Linked DNA regions of Homo sapiens. The gene in region 2 interacts genetically with the main gene of each other region. Each region holds a gene or a part of one and is shown on either strand. Other genes may lie near its edges.

Region 1 (3,658 bases), on a different chromosome or scaffold from region 2:
CAGGAGAATCACTTGCAGTGAGCCAAGATCGCGCCACTGCGGTTCAGCCTGGGCAACAGAGCGAGACTCAAAAAAAATAGCACAATTCTAACAATATGCCACCATCACTGCTGATGAACTGGATAAGAGGGGACTAGTGTCACGTAAAATTTACCATCTAAAAAACAATTTTAGGCCAGGCGCAGTGGCTCACGCCTGTAATCTCAGCACTTTGGAGGCCGAGGCGGGAGGATCACCTGAGGTCAGGAGTTTGAGACCAGCCTGGCCAACATAGTGAAACCCTGTCTCTACTAAAAATACAAAAATTAGGCCAGGCGGGGTGCCTCACGCATGTAATCCCAGCACTTTGGGAGGCCAAGGCAGGTGGATCACCTGAGGTCAGGAGTTCGAGACCAGCCGGACGAACATGGTGAAACCCCATCTCTATTAAAAATACAAAATTAGCCGGGCATGGTGGTACATGCCTGTAACAGTCCGCTACTTGGGAGGCTGAGGCAGGAGAATCGCTTGAATCCAGGAGGCAGAGGTTGTAGTTAGCCGAGATCCTGCCATTGCACTCCAGCCTGGACAACAAGAGCAAAACTCTGTCTCAAAAAAAAAAACAAAACAAAAATTAGCCGGGCGTGGTGGCATGTGCCTGTAGTTCCAGCTACTCAGGAGGCAGAGGTGAGAGAAACGCTTGAACCTGGGAGGTAGAGGCTGCAGTGAACTGAGATCGCGCCACTGCACTCCAGCTTGGGCAACAGAGTGAGACTCCATCTAAAAATTTAAAAATAAAATAAAAAACATTTTTAAGTATATAATTTAATGGTATTAAATACTTTCATCATGTGCAATCATCAGTCACCATAACTCATCTTGTAAAACTGAAACTCTGTACCCATTAAAACATAACTCTCCATTCCCTCCACCCCCTAGCCCCTGGCAAGGACCACTGTCCTTTCTTTCTCTATAAATTTGAGTAAGTACTTTATCTAAGTGTAATCATACAGTATTTATCCTTTTGTGACTGGCTTATTTCACTTAGCATAATGTCCTCAAGGTTCATCTATGTTGTACCATGTCAGAATTTCTTTCCTTTCACCTGGGCAGCATACCAAGACCCCATCTCTAAAAGAAGTTTAAAAGAATGTTTCAAAGGCCAGGCCCAGTGACTCACGCCTGTAATCCCGTACTTTCTGGGGAGGATCACTTGACACCAGGAGTTCAAGACCAGCCTGGGCAACATGGCAAGACCTCTTCTCTACCAAAAAAAAAAATTAAGAAGACATTAGTTAGGCATTGTGACATGTGCCTGTAATCCCAGCTTCCCAGGAAGCTGAGGCAGGAGAATGGCTTGAGTCCAGTTCGAGGCTGAAGTGAGCCATAGTCATGCCACTGCACTCCATCCTGGGTAACAGAATGAGACCTTATCTCTTAAAAAAAGTATATCTTTCCTTTTTATGGCTGAATGTTATTCCATTGTGTATAAATGCCACATTTTGCTTATCCATTCATCTGTCAGTGGCACTTGAGTTGCTTCCGCACCTCAGCTGTTGTAAACAGTCCTGCTGTGTATATGGCCACATATAAAAGGTCTTTTAACTTTATTAAGCTTTGTTTTCTCATCTGTAAAATGGAAAAGGGCCTGCTCTGCATGGTTGCAGAGATGAGTGAGTGTTAGTGTGCTTGACACTCTTCCTCTGAGGAAATAGCACCCGTGGTTGCCAGTTTGTGGCTACTGGAGCCTCACATGGCATTTGGAGGTGTGGCTCACTACCCCACCCCCGCCTGGGGCTCCAGGCTAACCCAGGCAAAACTGTAGGTGCTCTCTGACCCTCAGTGTGCTCCCTCTCGGCCCACAGCCCCCGGTCCCTGAGAAGCGGCCCCCTGAAATACAGCATTTCCGCATGAGTGATGATGTCCACTCACTGGGAAAGGTGACCTCAGGTCAGTCCCATCCCCCACCCCCGGTGGCTTGATGTGGTCTGTTCTGAAGGTTTCGGTGATAGGCCCCACACCATTCTCTCTCTTCTTCCAGATCTGGCCAAAAGGAGGAAGCTGAACTCAGGAGGTGGCCTGGTAAGCAGCAGAGGCAGAGCCTCTACCCCTCGGGGGCTGCTCTGAGGGAGGGTCAGAGGTGGGGCTGCATCCCATCCTCAGTAGAAATGCGCAGGGTGTCAGTGGCCTCAATTTTTCTGATCTTTTTCTAGTCAGAGGAGTTAGGTTCTGCCCGGCGTTCAGGAGAAGTGACCCTGACGAAAGGGGACCCCGGGTCCCTGGAGGAGTGGGAGACGGTGGTGGGTGATGACTTCAGTCTCTACTATGATTCCTACTCTGTGGATGAGCGCGTGGACTCCGACAGCAAGGTGAGACAGAGCTGGTCTGCCCTCCCCGCCGGTGCTCCCCCAGGGCTGGGGCTCACTGTCCAGTCCTCCTTGTTCCCTGTTTTTCTGCTTTCTGTCCTTTTTATCTTCTGAATATCCACTAAGTCATTGCCCCATGCTGTCTATAACTCCTTTTTTTTGTGGGGGGAGACGGAATCTCATTCTGTCGCCCAGGCTGGAGCGCAATATCACGATCTGGGCTCACTGCAACCTCTGTCTCCAGGGTTAAAGCAATTCTCCTGCCTCAGCCTCCCGAGTAGCTGGGATTACAGGCACCTGCCACCACGCCCGGCTAATTTTTGTATTTTTAGTAGAGACGGGGTTTCCCTGTGTTGGCCAGGCTGGTCTCTAACTCCTGACCTTAGTTGATCCACCCACCTTGGCCTCCCAAAGTGCTGGGATTACAGCTGTGAGCCACCGCGCCCAGCTGTAACTCATTTTCAATGTGTATTCTGCCCGTTTCATCCACAAAGGTGGCCACCACCCTGCACATGGGATTTAGTATTCTTTTTTTTTTAATCAGCTAATGAAATGACCATTTAACAGACATGTACTGTTTAAAAAAAGAAAACAAAAAAAGAAATGACCAGAAAGCACTTTTTTAAAACATACGTTATGCTGTTTATATAAAATTCAAAAGCATTGCATTGTCATTTATTTGCTTATTTCGTTGCTCTTTGTCTGGTTTTATCTTATATGTTTGCCTACACAGTAGAATGTTTAGTCTCTCTGATTTTGCCTTTTATTTAACATTTTATCATGAAAACTTGCAAGCATAATCAAAAGAGTAGAATAGGGAGCCCCCATGTACCCAATACACAGCTCCAGCCATTATCAGTACACAGTCCATCTTGACCCATCTGTACATCTCCCAGCACACACACCTACTAGGTTATTTTAAAGCAAATCCCAGACCTCATATCATTTTACCTAAACATATATCCATATAGATTTGTAAATATAAGGCCTCTTTTTGTCGTTCAACATCATTACACTACTGTTTTCACACCTAAAAAAACTTACCGATTTCTTAATACCATCAAATATCCTGTCAGTCTTCACATTTCCTCAGCTCTCACAAATGGTTTTTGTCAAGATCCAAATGAGGCCCACACCTTGATTTGATTAACATTTGTCTTAGGTCAGCCAGGCACAGTGGCTCACGCCTGTAATCCCAATACTTTGGGAGGCCAAGGCGGGCAGATCACGTGAGGTTGGGAGTTCGAGACCAGCCTGATCAACATGGAGAAACCCCGTCTCTACTGAAAAAAATACAAAATTAGCTGGACGTA
Region 2 (3,658 bases):
ATACCAACTAGACAGTCAGAGAAAGACTTCCAATGTTTGACTGAACTGCAATTTTATTGTGTATGCATTGAAGAATCTTTTTTTTTTTTTTTGTATTCTCTAAAGATTTTTAAAATATTTTAAGTTCTGGATACAAGTGCAGGATGTGCGGGTTTGTTACATAGGTAAACGTGTCCCATGGTGGTTTGCTGCACCTATCAACCTATCACCTAGGTATTAAGCCCCACATGCATTAGCTAGTTATCCTGATGCTCTCCCCGCTACGGCCCCTGCATCAGGCCCCAGTGTGTGTTGATCTCATCCCTGTGTCCGTGTGTTCTCATTGTTCAGCTTCCGCTTACAAGTGAGAACATGTGGTGTTTGGTTTCCTGCTCCTCTGTTAGTTTGCTGAGGATAATGGCTTCCAGCTTCATCCATGTCCCTGCAAAGGACATGATCTCATTCCTTTTTTAAAAAAAAAAACAAAATTATTTCCATAGGTGTTTGGGGAACAGGTGGTATCTGGTTACATGCGTAAGTAATTAAGTGGTTACTTGTGAGATTCTGGTGCACCCATCACCTGAGCAGTATACACTGAACCCAATTTGTATTCTTTTATCCTTCACCCCCCTCCCACCCTTTCCCCTAAGTCCCCAAAGTCCATTGTATCCTTCTTATGCCTTTGCATCCTCATAGCTTATCTCCCACTTATGAGTGAGAACATACAATGTTTGGTTTTCCATTCCTCAGTTACTTCCTTTAGAGTAATAGTCTCCAGGTTGCTGTGAATGTCATTAATTCATTCCTTTTTATGGCTGAGTAGTGTTTAGGTGAGGTTATTTGTAAGTAATTAATATTGAGTAAATAAGATTCATCCATAGTGGCAAAGCCACATAACTTCTAAGTATCTTAAACTATATCTAAATGGTACCAAAACATGCAGTCAATTCTAAAAGCTCAGCTAATGATATTTCATAATATAGGAAAATATTCACAACATATTTTTGTGTAAAAAAAAGCAGACTTCAAAATGGAATATGCATTATGATTCCAATCATGTAAAAGCTATACATGAACACATACAAAGATTAACAGATATAAACAAATGGAAGAATGAATGGAGAGATAGATGATAGACAGATTGAGTGGTGGTGGAGAATAACAGATTTAAAAAGAAATTGTGCCTTTCTATATTTTCAAAACCATTTAAATAAGTATTACCTTTGGAGTTAGAAAATGATATGTATTTTAAATCCATAATTCAACTACTTATCTATATGATGTCAAACTGGATTAGGCTGAATTATCAGCAAGTGAATAAAACAGTTCCTTCATCCATGGAGAAACATCCATTTATGACATTCTTGGAATTCCTCTTGTTAGAATTCTTTATGAATTTAAAATAGAAACATGGCCAGACTCAAGATTTCAATACAAACATTACTTTTTCACGTTCAGTAATAACCAATTAAAAGAATTAATGAAAAATCTGATTCACTGTATCACCAAAAGCTGTAATGGCTGCACTGCACAGTATTCCATGGTGTATATGTACCACATTTTCTTTATCCAGTCTATCTTTGATGGGCATTTGCTATTGTGTCTTTGCTATTGTGAAGAGTGCTGCAATGAACAAAAATGTGCATGTATCTTTATAATAAAATGGTTTATATTCCTTTGGGTATATACCCAGTAATGGGATTGCTGGGACAAATAGTATTTCTAGTTCTAGATCTTTGAGGAATAGCCACACACACTTCCACAACGGTTGAACTAATTTACATTCCCACCAACAATGTAAAAGTGTTCCTACTTCTCCACAGCCTCGCCAGCATCTGTTGTTTTTTGACTTTTTAATAATCACCATTCTGACCGGCATGAGATGGTATCTCATTGTGGTTCTCCTTTGCATTTCTCTAATGATCAGTAAGGTTGAGCTTTTTTTTATATGTTTGTTGGCCACATAAATGTCTTCTTTTGAGAAGTGTCTGTTCATGTCCTTTGTCCACTTTTTGATGGGGTTGTTTTTTTCCTTGTAAATTTGTTTTAAGTTCCTTGTAGGTTCTGGATATTAGACCTTTGTCAGATGGATAGATTGCAAAAATGTTCTCCCATTCTGTAGGTTGCCTGTTCACTCTAATGATAGTTTCTTTTGCTGTGCAGGAGCTCTTTAGTTTAATTAGATCCCATTTGTAATTTTTGCTTTTGTTGCAATTGCTTTTGATGTTTTTGTCATGAAACCTTTGCTTGTGCCTATGTCTTGAATGGTATTAAATAGATTTTCTTCTAGGGTTTTTATAGTTTTAGGTTTTACATTAAGTCTTTAATCTTGAGTTAATTTTTGTATAAGGTGTAAGGAAGGGGTCAGTTTCAATTTTCTGCATATGGCTAGCCAGTTTTCCCAGCACCATTTATTAAATAGGGAATCTTTTCCCCATTGCTTGTTTTTGTCAGGTTTGTCGATGATCAGATGGCTGTAGATGTGTGGTCTTCTTTCTCTGGTCTCTATTCTGTTCCATTGGTCTATGTGTCTGTTTTTGTACCAGTACCATGCCATTTTGGCTACTGTAGCCTTGCAGTATACTTTGAAGTTGGGTAGTGTGATGCTTCCAGCTTTGTTCTTTTTGCTTATTGTTGTCTTGGTTATACGGGCTCTTTTTTGGTTCCATTTGAATTTTAAAGTAGTTTTTTTCTAATTCTGTGAAGAATGTCAATAGTAGTTTAATGGGAATAGCAATGAACCTATAAATTACTTTGGGTAGTATGGCCATTTTCATGATATTGATTCTTCCTATCCACGAGAATGGAATGTTTTTTCATTTGTGTCCTCTCTTATTTCCTTGAGCAGTGGTTTGTAGTTCTCCTTGAAGAGATCCTTCACATCTTATTAGCTGTATTCCTAGGTATTTTATTCTCTTTCTAGCAACTGTGAATGGGAGTTCATTCATGATTTGGCTCTCTGCTTGTGTATTGTTGGTGTATAGAATGCTTGTGATTTCTGCACATTGATTTTGTATCCTGAGACTTTGCTGAAGTTGCTTATCAGCTTAAGGAACTTTTGGGTGGAGATAATGGGGTTTTCTAGATATAGTATCATGTCATCTGCAAACACAGTTTTACTTCCTCTTTTCCTATTTGAATACCCCTTATTTGTTTCTCTTGCCTGATTTTCTTGGCCAGAACTTCCAATACTATGTTAAATAGGAGTGGTGAGACGGCATCCCTGTCTTGTGCCAGTTTTCAAGGGGAATGCTTCCAGCTTTTGCCCATTCAGTATGATAATGGCTGTGGGTTTGTCATAAATGGTTATTATTTTGAGATATTTTCCATCAATACCTAGTTTATTGAGAGTTTTTAACATGAAGCAACGTTGAATTTTATTGAAGGCCTTTTCTGTATCTATTGAGATAATCATGTGGTTTTTGTCTTTAGTTCTGTTTATGTGATGAATTATGTTTCTTGATTTGCGTATGTTGAACCAGCCTTGCATCCCAGGGATGAAGCCAACATTCCAAACATTTTATTTATTATTTATTTATTTATTTATTTTTGAGACAGAGTCTCGCACTGTCGCCCAGGCTGGAGTGCAGTGGCAAGATCTCAGCTCGCTGCAAGCTCCACCTCCCAGGTTCATGCCGTTCTCTTGCCTCGGCCTCCCAAATAGCAGGGACTACAGGCG

What was found.
Region 1: changes in CFLAR (region 2) and EHMT2 together harm fitness less than expected from each alone (positive genetic interaction), as found in Homo sapiens cells (one large-scale study listed by BioGRID).

What each region holds. Positions count from the first base shown.
Region 1 is NC_000006.12:31,891,097-31,894,754, reverse strand, and holds part of EHMT2 (histone-lysine N-methyltransferase EHMT2), read left to right. Parts: intron 1-1,092; exon of another isoform or gene 1,093-1,393; intron 1,394-1,844; coding exon 1,845-1,929; intron 1,930-2,020; coding exon 2,021-2,061; intron 2,062-2,192; coding exon 2,193-2,348; intron 2,349-3,658. UniProt on the Homo sapiens protein: Histone methyltransferase that specifically mono- and dimethylates 'Lys-9' of histone H3 (H3K9me1 and H3K9me2, respectively) in euchromatin.
Region 2 is NC_000002.12:201,168,114-201,171,771, reverse strand, and holds part of CFLAR (CASP8 and FADD-like apoptosis regulator), read right to left. Parts: 3' UTR 1-3,658. UniProt on the Homo sapiens protein: Apoptosis regulator protein which may function as a crucial link between cell survival and cell death pathways in mammalian cells. Acts as an inhibitor of TNFRSF6 mediated apoptosis.